2 linked regions of the Homo sapiens genome follow. The protein of the gene in region 1 interacts with the protein of each later gene in a pairwise test. Each region holds a gene or a part of one and is shown in the gene's direction. Other genes may lie near its edges.

Region 1 (4,798 bases):
GAGCTTTAAAAAAGACCCTGACATCAGTATTTTTAAAAAGGAGGTCTTAAACTTTAACATGCATCAGAGTTACTCAGAGGACTTATTCAAACAGATCGCTGGACTTCACTCCCAGAGTTCCTGATTCAGTAAGTCTGGGGTGCATCCTGAGAATTCACATTTCTAACAAGTTCCAGTGATACAGGAACTACTGTTCCTCTGTCCTTCTCCTTACCTCTGCAGGTGAGGAAGTGACAGGTGAGAGGGAGGTAGGAACAGAGTGATGATCACTTCTTTAGCAGTCCTGTCTTGTCACCATGCAGTGACTACATGACCTCGATAAGATAAATCAAACCTGGGCACAATATTGCCTTAGGGCTATAGCTGAGTGCTTCCCTCAACCCCCATTTTTCTCCCCCACAAAATTTCCCCTTGAGGGAAAAATTGGTTCTAAAACCAGGCGAAATCCAAGTATTCTATTCCAGTCATTTCTGGAGAGAATCCAGAAAGACCTTCTATATGAATGTAGCATGTAAATTATATAAAATATGGAGATATTTTTAAAATATTTGCCTGGAAACTTATAATGTTCACAAAAAAGAACATAGCCAATAGAAAATGTTCTTATATCTAGATAGCATGCTGTCTAAGGGCAGATTCCAGAGGAGAAAAGGGGAACTCGAGAGCTTCAACTAGGTTTTCAGTAAGTTATCATGAAATCGTGAGGAACTTTGAGATCCCAGTCTGTTATATAAAGTGGTGGTACTTGGGTACTGAACTATTTCATGATTTCCTCAGTGACAAGTATTCCAGATAATATTTTGTTTCCAGAACACAAAAGTAGTGAAGCGCTATTTTATTTTTTTATTCCATTTATGGCATATGTTGCATTATTAGTACTTCCTTTTATAGGTGTTTAGTTTTGAAGTCACTTTAATCTGTTTGTAAGAATAATTTCTTAGGATCAGCCAGGCATGTTTAGGTAATGTTGGAAACATCTAACTCTATTATACCCCAGAAATCTTGGGCAGTTTTCAGGTGGATGTGTCTTTGGGGCTGTGACAGATGAACATTTGGTATTGTAAAAGGAGACATCTGTCCCCGTTTGGGTGCTCCTGGTTTCCTGGCTGATCTTGTGTCATTTTTGCCTGTTGCATCCCAGGCTGATGTTCCTGCCCTGCAGTCAGTCTCCACCAGCAGCCACTTTTTCCCTCCTTCTTTCTTGTTGGCAACCTGCAGTTTCCTTTCTCCCCATCCTGTCTACTCCATCAGCAATTTCCACTCAGTGCTCAGTCCTGGAAGAGGGTGGGTGGGGGTCGGGGATCAAATATAAGCCCTCAACAAGTCCACGTTAGAAACTAGTGCTAAACAGTGACTTGAGATATTCAGGATTTCAGATGCCTAGACTTTAAAAGAAAATTGCTTCACTTTGGCTGAAAATGGATGGAAAATCTTGAGTTAAATGATTTCTAACCCTAGTCATTATTAAAAAGTTTACAAATGATGCCAACTAAAAAATATAGACAAAGAGAGTTAGAAAATTACTACTTTGAAACCATCATAGCAATAATTAATTCAAGCAAGATTCATCCATGGATGCTGAACTGTTATGTGAAAATTTTAAGAGGAACAGAATTATTTACATTGTTAAAGAATTTCCCCCAGGACAACCCATTTCTTTAGGATCCCTCTCTGCTGCAGAGAGCTCTTTCTTTCTTAGTTAAGAACTTCCACTCTTGGCCGGGCGCGGTGGCTCACGCCTGTAATCCCAGCACTTTGGGAGGCCGAGGCGGACGGATCACGAGGTCAGGAGATGAAGACCATCCTGGCTAACATGGTGAAACCCCGTCTCCACTAAAAATACAAAAAATTAGCCGGGCGTGGTGGCGGGCGCTTGTAGTCCCATCTACTCGGGAGGCTGAGGCAGGAGAATGGCGTGAACCCGGAAGGTGGAGCTTGCAGTGAGCCGAGATCCTGCCACTGCACTCCAGCCTGGGCGACAGAGTGAGGCTCCGTCACACACACACACACACACACAAAAAAAGCATTTTCCCCAAAGATTATTTATTAATTGGAAAATGGGGGGAAAACCTGGAGTATACGAACTTAACCAAATAATCAAAGTTAACATTAACAATAATGGGGCTAGTTGCGGTGGCTCATGCCTGTAATCCGAGCACTTTGGGAGGCCGAGGCGGGTGGATCGCCTGAGGTCAGGAGTTTGCGACCAGCCTGGCCAACATGGTGAAATCCTGTCTCTACTAAAAATACAAAAAATTAGCCGGGTGTGGTGACAGGCGCCTGTAATCCCAGCTACTTGGGAGGCGGAGGCAGGAGAATCTCTTGAACCCAGAAGGTAGAGGTTGCAGTGAGCTGAGATCACGCCATTGCACTGCAGCCTGGGCAACAAGAGCAAAACTCCATCTCCAAAAAAAAAAAAAAAAAGAATAATGGGACAAACTGATATCCTGTACTTCCTGATAGGAAGCACCGGGAAGGACACAATGCCACTTACTGTGCCACAAATGTATAACCTGGTTCTGATCACGAGGAAACATCAGACAAAGGCAAATCAAGAGACATTCTGTAAGTCAGTGTCATGAAAGATGGCTGAGGCACTGTTCAGATTGAAGAAGACTAAAGAGACCACTAAATGCAATGGATGATTTCAGGTTATATCCTAGATGAGGGAAAAAATGCGACAAAGGACAGTGTTGTGATAATTGGTGAGATTTGAATATGGCTTGTATATTGGATAATAGCATTGTATCAGTGTTAAATTTCTTAAATTTGATATTTTTATTGTGGTTGACATGGGACATGATATCTGTACCTAAATGTCAAAGGCTTTAGGAAAAAAGGATATATGCATGTATGTGTGCATTTATATGTATATGTGTATCATATGAGAGAGAAAGCAAAGGTGGCCGAAGGTTAGCATTTGGTAAATTTAGGAGTTCCTTGTGCTGTTCTTGCAGCTTTTCTGCGAATTTGGGGGAGGGAGTTTATAAATGAAAGCACTGAGCTATTAATCTGTATTCTAGGCTTTATGGTCTAATACTATTGAGTTTACTTTTTGAAATAAATAACGTTGGACTCCTAATTCTGTTGTGAAGTGATAATGTTAACAAAACTTTTTATTAGGGAAAATTTCATATACACAAGAAGAGAGAATAGTATAGTGAACCCCCATGTATCCAGGTCACATAGCTTTAATGAGCGTTGGTATTTCACCAGGCTTGTTGCATCCATCTCCACCTCCACCCCCACTTTTCTGGGAGAGGCATTTTGAAGGCAAATCCAAGACATCATGATGCTTCACTGCCCCTCTGTGCATACTTCCCTCCTCATAATCCCCAAGCTTTTATCAGACTTCAGTAGCAATTCTGCAATAATAGATGACAGCAGCCAGGCGCGGTGGCTCACGCCTGTAATCCCAGCACTTTGGGAGGCCGAGGCGGGTGGATCATGAGGTCAGGAGTTTGAGACCAGCCTGATCAACATGGTGAAACCCCATCTCTACTAAAATTACAAAAATTAGCAGGGCGTGGTGGCACTCATCTGTAATCCCAGCTACTTGGGAGGCTGAGGCAGGAGAATCGCTTGAACCTGGGAGGCGGAGGTTGCAGTGAGCCGAGATTGCTTCACCGCACTCCAGCCTGGGAGACACAGTGAGACTCTGTCTCAAAAAAAAAAAAAAAAAACAGCATTTAGATATTATTAATGTTATAGAATAGCAGAGTTCTGAGGAATGTACTGATTTGACATATATGGGCTGTGCACTTGTTTTAAGTTTGAAAAGCTGACTAAGCCTGGGTAATTATAAACAGTGTAGAAGAAAAGGTCTGTGAACCTGCTTGTTCTTGTTTTGTTTGCTAAACTGCTCCTCCTGTTTTTAAACCAAGAATTAAATTCTAGAAGAAAACATAAATATGGTTATGGTGGCAATATTCTCAACTGATTTACCCAGTTGATGTTATCTTATTGAAACATTCTAAGAGTAAATCAGCATAAATAATTTCATACTGTTTGAATAGAATTCCTATGTTTTCATTTCACCATGGCATCTTTGAATTGGTAAACCCAGTAAAGCTTTTTCTTGACCAACCTGAGTTTCTAAATGAATCTAAAATTTGGTCTATATGTTTTATAAAAGAAATGGGACAGACATCTTGGGAGGAATAAACCTTCCCTTCTCCTGAGTATAGTAGATTTGGATGACATTTGTCCTTTTAGATCACTAGGGTATTATTTAGTCATTAACTATTATTTAGCATTATGAATGATAAGATGGCTATTATGCCATTTAACAATTGTCTGTATATTAAGATGATAATCAAACTCACTGACAGTGCTTTCTAGTAGATTGGAGAGGTATCTGAAGTGCATATTACAAAAAAAATTTTATGCACAGCTGTCATCCTTCCATTAAGGATTATACATATCTGATTTTAGGTAGTTTACATTTATGGATGGATATTACCCCTTTAGAATAAAATTTTCTTATTGTGAGAATATAATATTCTTCTGGCGTCTAATTTTAGGAATATAATAAGTCACATTCTATAATTTTACTCACAATGGAGCAAAGATTAAGAGACATAAAATGATTTTACCCACCCTGCATGAAAATGCCCCTGGTTTATATACTTAATTCAAAAGAGCACCATACAGATAACCTACCAATTACAAGGAGGTTTTCAATTGGCTTAGCTCAATAGAAATTGCAAAAGATTGAAGAACTGAGTGTGGTATGGTGGAAGAGAGCACAGGCCTGGTTCCAGAGGTGCCTGAGTCGTGAACTCTGGTCCTGCCACTC
Region 2 (4,798 bases), on another chromosome or scaffold:
CATTCTGTAAGTATAAACTATTGTTTCCCCCATTTCTGTTCCCAGGAATAATATTCTAATACAGTTAAAGATGTAATAATTATTTTAGTTGGAGAATAAAGGAGATAATCAAATATATAGGGAAAGTATAGTATTCAAAGTGAACTTAAAGGGTTGATTTAGAAAGAGCAAGCATAACATTCTCTTATCCCTGACTTGTTACAATATAACTCATTACAATATCCCTGATGTTGCAATATATCATCAAAGTTGTCTTCATAAATATAGTTTAGCGAGAAGTCCTGTCATTTCCCCTCCCAATTTGGGGGATTTAATGTGTGATATTCTCTGTCTTGTCAGTATGGTTTTCCAACTGGCATTATCTTTATCAGCATGTAATGCCACTTTAGTAATTCTTGATTGTTAGTTGGTTTTCAACTAAGCCTTTTAGAGAGTTTTATGTCATTTGTAGTCAGTTATTAAAACAGTATAGGCTTCTGGGTTCTTTGAACAGCTAGTGGTGGTACTGTCACTAAGTGTTGTAGTTCATGTGGCTGTCAAAAGACAAAATTACAGCACACTTAGTTTAGAGATCTTAATTGTCTTTTATTTGCAACTCTAGAATAGGGCAACACCTCATTCTATAAAATAGAACAAGTGTTCCAATGAGCTGAGCAGAGGCGTTTGGCTTTATAAACAGAGAAGGGAGCTGAGGAAAGCAGAGACAAGGAGCAAAAAGCGGATTGGTCATTTCAGAGTTACTTTTCTTGTGAAGGGTAAAGCAGTGCAGACTTCCTTTTCATGCTGGCTAAAACTGGCCTATTTGTGGTTTTGGCCATTATTTATCTCCTGATTTCGCAGAACGTCAGGAAAAGATCTTTGTCTTGGCTTGATAGCGTGGAACTTCATCATGAATTTGGTTTGGTCTTTGGGCCTAGTTCAGGAGCTCAGTCCAAAGCAATGGCCTCCTGGAAATTTTCTTTGACACCGCTCTTGTTATTCCTAGTCCTCATTGTTTTCTGTGGCTGTAGCTTATGAACTATAAAATCTGGTTTTAAGGTGAAAAGAGTTGTTTTATGATTGTACAATTAAAAAATAAGTAGAACAAAGTAGTTTTTGGTACTGTGAGTGAAAGAAACATGCATTTTTATTTATAGCATTATCCAAGGACCATTTTGTGACCCCTGTCTGGCATATTAGTCTAAAATAAAATTGTGGATTAGATATTGTATATTTTGGGAGTTCTTCACCCCATCCTTTTGTAGTTTATAATGGTTCTGCCATTTCCAGCATGTTTTCTAGATTATTTTCCAGTTCTTTTCCTTGTATGTAAAGCTCTTTTTCTTGTCTAAAAATTCTTAACTGAGAAGTGCTTTTAACTGTTTTCAGACCACCACTTGGACACTATAGATATTCAGGCCAAGATAAAGCACTTCATGGTGATTATGATGATTTTGAATGGCATTCACATTGCTAGTATAATTAACAAAGTATAGAAGTATCACCCAAACTGAAGTGGAGAAGACACTGAGAGATGACTTTTGGTCTTAAGGGCAGTTGGCCAGAATAAAGTATAGCAGAAGGGGAAAGAAGTACCGTTTCTTCCCTTTTCTATTCAGAGGAGACATTAGACCTCTCCTTGGAAGAGATTCCCAAGTTGCCACTTCCCTCTTGTTGATTAATTTTTCTCCAACCAGAGTTCCCCATCTGATGTCCAGAAAGATCTCCAAATTGTCTTTCTACCTTTTTTTCCCTTCTTTACATTAACACCATTTCTATTTGCTTGGTGTTGATTATATCTCTCTATAAGGATTTAGGAGAAAATAATCTGATTATTTAATACAAAATAAAACTATAGATTAGATACTGTGTCTTTCTTTGGGAATTCTTCACCCCATTCTTTTGTGGTTTAAAACAGTTCTGTCATTTCCTACATGTTTTCTGGATTATTTTCTGGTTTCTTCCTTTTATGTAAAGCCGTGAGTTGGTGCTTTAGCATTCTCAATATTTGCATTTTCAAAGAAAATCTTTTTTAAATGAACCCTCTGCTTCCAACTGACAGGTTTTCAAATTCTGTGACAAAAAAAATAGGATGAGGGAAGTTTTTTCTTGACTTCTTGAATCTTTGCTCTCCGTGATTAGTTCCTTAAAGTTATTTATTCTTCTGTATTTCTGAACTCATGGATTTCCCAAAAGTTCTATGTGCACATGTGTTAGGATTTTTTGGGTGTATGGGGATTGGCAGTAATGTTGGTGGTTGTGTTTTTACAACTCTCACTGAAAACTCCCCAGCCCTACCCTAATCTGAGCAATTCTATTAGATAGGAAAAAAAAAAAAATCCAGGTCTCATTTTCTCCATACGTCAGCCCAGATGGAAATTTAAGGAACTCTTAAATAGAGATGAATAAACAGATACTTGACATACTACACTAAAAGTTTACTAAACCCTAAAATGAGACAATTATCTGAGAATTCTTGTTTTTGCAGAAGAAACATCCCATGCTGTCAAATATAAATACTTTGGACTACCCAATGAAAATAGATACTACGAGGCAAATTACAATCAAAATGGTTTAAAGATATAATCTTGAATATTCTTTAATCTTTTAAGTAATTACAAAACGATTCCACCAGCTTCAAAGTAAAATATTTATGTCCTTCATTCTAACTAGAACTGGTTTTGTTCCAAAGATATAGTATACATGACCATGTGATTTCTCCAGTTCTGTATGTAGATGCTCACGAAACTGGCTATAATTATACAGTGTAATATTCCTTTTCATATGTAGAGAGCAAATTATTGGTAATAGAAACCTACCAATTAAAGTAATACTATATGTGTTGTACTCTTAACCTGAATGTTTGCCAGGTCTAGTCAGTGTTTAGATGTGAGTTTCCTTTATTCACAAGACCATTTAATAATATATGAACTCCTGCTGAAGTTATGTTATGTATATTTTTTATCTTAATACACACCCAGTGTATTCCAGAGACACCTTGAAAACTACTTAAAATACTCAAAGATATTATATTTCTCTCTGAATCATAGCCAACCTATATAATTAGAAAGTGGTACACAGTAAGTGAACAGACTCAGTAAGTCATAAACCTGAACTAGTATTCTTCACAATTACGTATAATAGAACTAGATATTCCCTATAAGGCCTGTCATTATATAATTTGTAATTTAGACCATTATAAACTTTAAGAGTTGTAAATTGTGAAAGTACTGCATGCAGTAGCAAAGCTATGGTCAGATATTACTGGCCAAGTCTTACATAGAAAATATTTTCAGGTTTTTTTTAAAATAGAAGGATTATATCTTGTGTCTGCTTAATTGAAAAGGTAAGAATCAATTTAAGATATACTTCACTATTTAGCTTTATATTATTTTCAGTTTTGTCAGAAGCCATTTTTCTAGACAAATTAGAGACTTCTGATTTAAAATGGAATTGAAGATTACCTTCATTTGATCAGGAACTCAAAAGTTGGCAAAATAGCAGCATAAAATCTCTACCAGACCTCTAAGTTTCTTGTTATTGCTGTGGTCTTTCATGTGATAGGAATCTGGTTGGGATTTTTAAAATACATAATTATTATTTTAAAGCACTCGAATTATGTGAGTACTTAATACCATTTGATGTCATTAGATACACTATTAATTGTTTAATACGGAAAAAGGGGAACAAACTCTACTGCAGCAGAAAGCACTTTTATTTCTTCATTCATCTGAAGTATGAAATTTGTAATGTATTTATTTAGCTTTAAGTCATATGAAAACTGTCAGGTATTATTTTGGGGCATAGATTTCTTAGTACATGGTATTTATTATTCACTTCAATTTTTGTAAAGCAGGTATTCTTGGTTTTTAGCAAAGCAGGCTTTAGCTATACAAATTTGCTTTTCTTTAAGCTTATGTGATTCTACTTTTCTCCCATATCTAGTTCTATACGCCAGCCTTCTCTAATGAAAACAACTTAGGAGGAGTGTTTTATTACCTAACCCTACTATACCAAACGCCAGTCCTTATTCTTGGTTATCTGTAGATGTTAACAGGTCATATTCTTTGTTTATTAAAAATAATAATAATAATTTTCTTTCCTGCATGTTATTCTGGAAGATTCTATCCAGTGGAATTCAACACAAGACACACTAACAGGAGGCCCTGCTTCATGGGATATTGGAAGTTTTAAGACAATGAAATCCAGCTATTACTTCTTAGTAACATAAAATAGAATTATTTGCCTTTGCTCTTTTGTTTTTTAAACTCTCCTTATCTTCCCCCCCACTTTCTTCCTCACAAAAAGAATCTTACAGCTGCTTTCTAAGAGTTTAGAAAACAACCTTTTCCTCCCCTTGGAGGGAATGTGTCAGGTCTAGGTCTTGGCAGCGTGTTAAAGCATTGACGTAATTAGTTTAAGACAAATTACGTGTTAACTAGAAAACGAAGGGACATTTCTTACCAAGCCGTGACAATGTACTACCTTAACTCAATAATAAAAATTGCCCAAGTGACAGTGTGTCTCTGCTGAATGGCTTTTCTTACACCATCTGGTTGTCATTGTAGTTTTTGTTGTTGTTGCTTTCATTTGAAATGTGCTGATGATCTTGTTTTTATTCCGTAGCATTGAACAGATGGGTTGATTATTCTTTTCAGATATTAATAAGGCAGCGGAAAGAAGAAATATGAATACGGCTCCATCAAGACCCAGCCCCACACGAAGGTAAAGTACCCTGAAGCCGTGAGTTACCTTGGGAGAGTTGGGCTCTGGGGAGTTAAGCCCAGCTTCGTACACCAAAGGTCTTTTCTTCCCCCCA

What was found. Proteins that work in one complex are often made in the same cells at the same time.
Region 2: the proteins of SYT16 (region 1) and NCOA5 interact in a two-hybrid assay, tested with the Homo sapiens proteins (one large-scale study listed by BioGRID).

Annotation. Positions count from the first base shown.
Region 1 is NC_000014.9:61,815,013-61,819,810, forward strand, and holds part of SYT16 (synaptotagmin-16), read left to right. Parts: intron 1-4,798. UniProt on the Homo sapiens protein: May be involved in the trafficking and exocytosis of secretory vesicles in non-neuronal tissues. Is Ca(2+)-independent.
Region 2 is NC_000020.11:46,079,293-46,084,090, reverse strand, and holds part of NCOA5 (nuclear receptor coactivator 5), read left to right. Parts: intron 1-4,637; 5' UTR 4,638-4,666; coding exon 4,667-4,704; intron 4,705-4,798. UniProt on the Homo sapiens protein: Nuclear receptor coregulator that can have both coactivator and corepressor functions.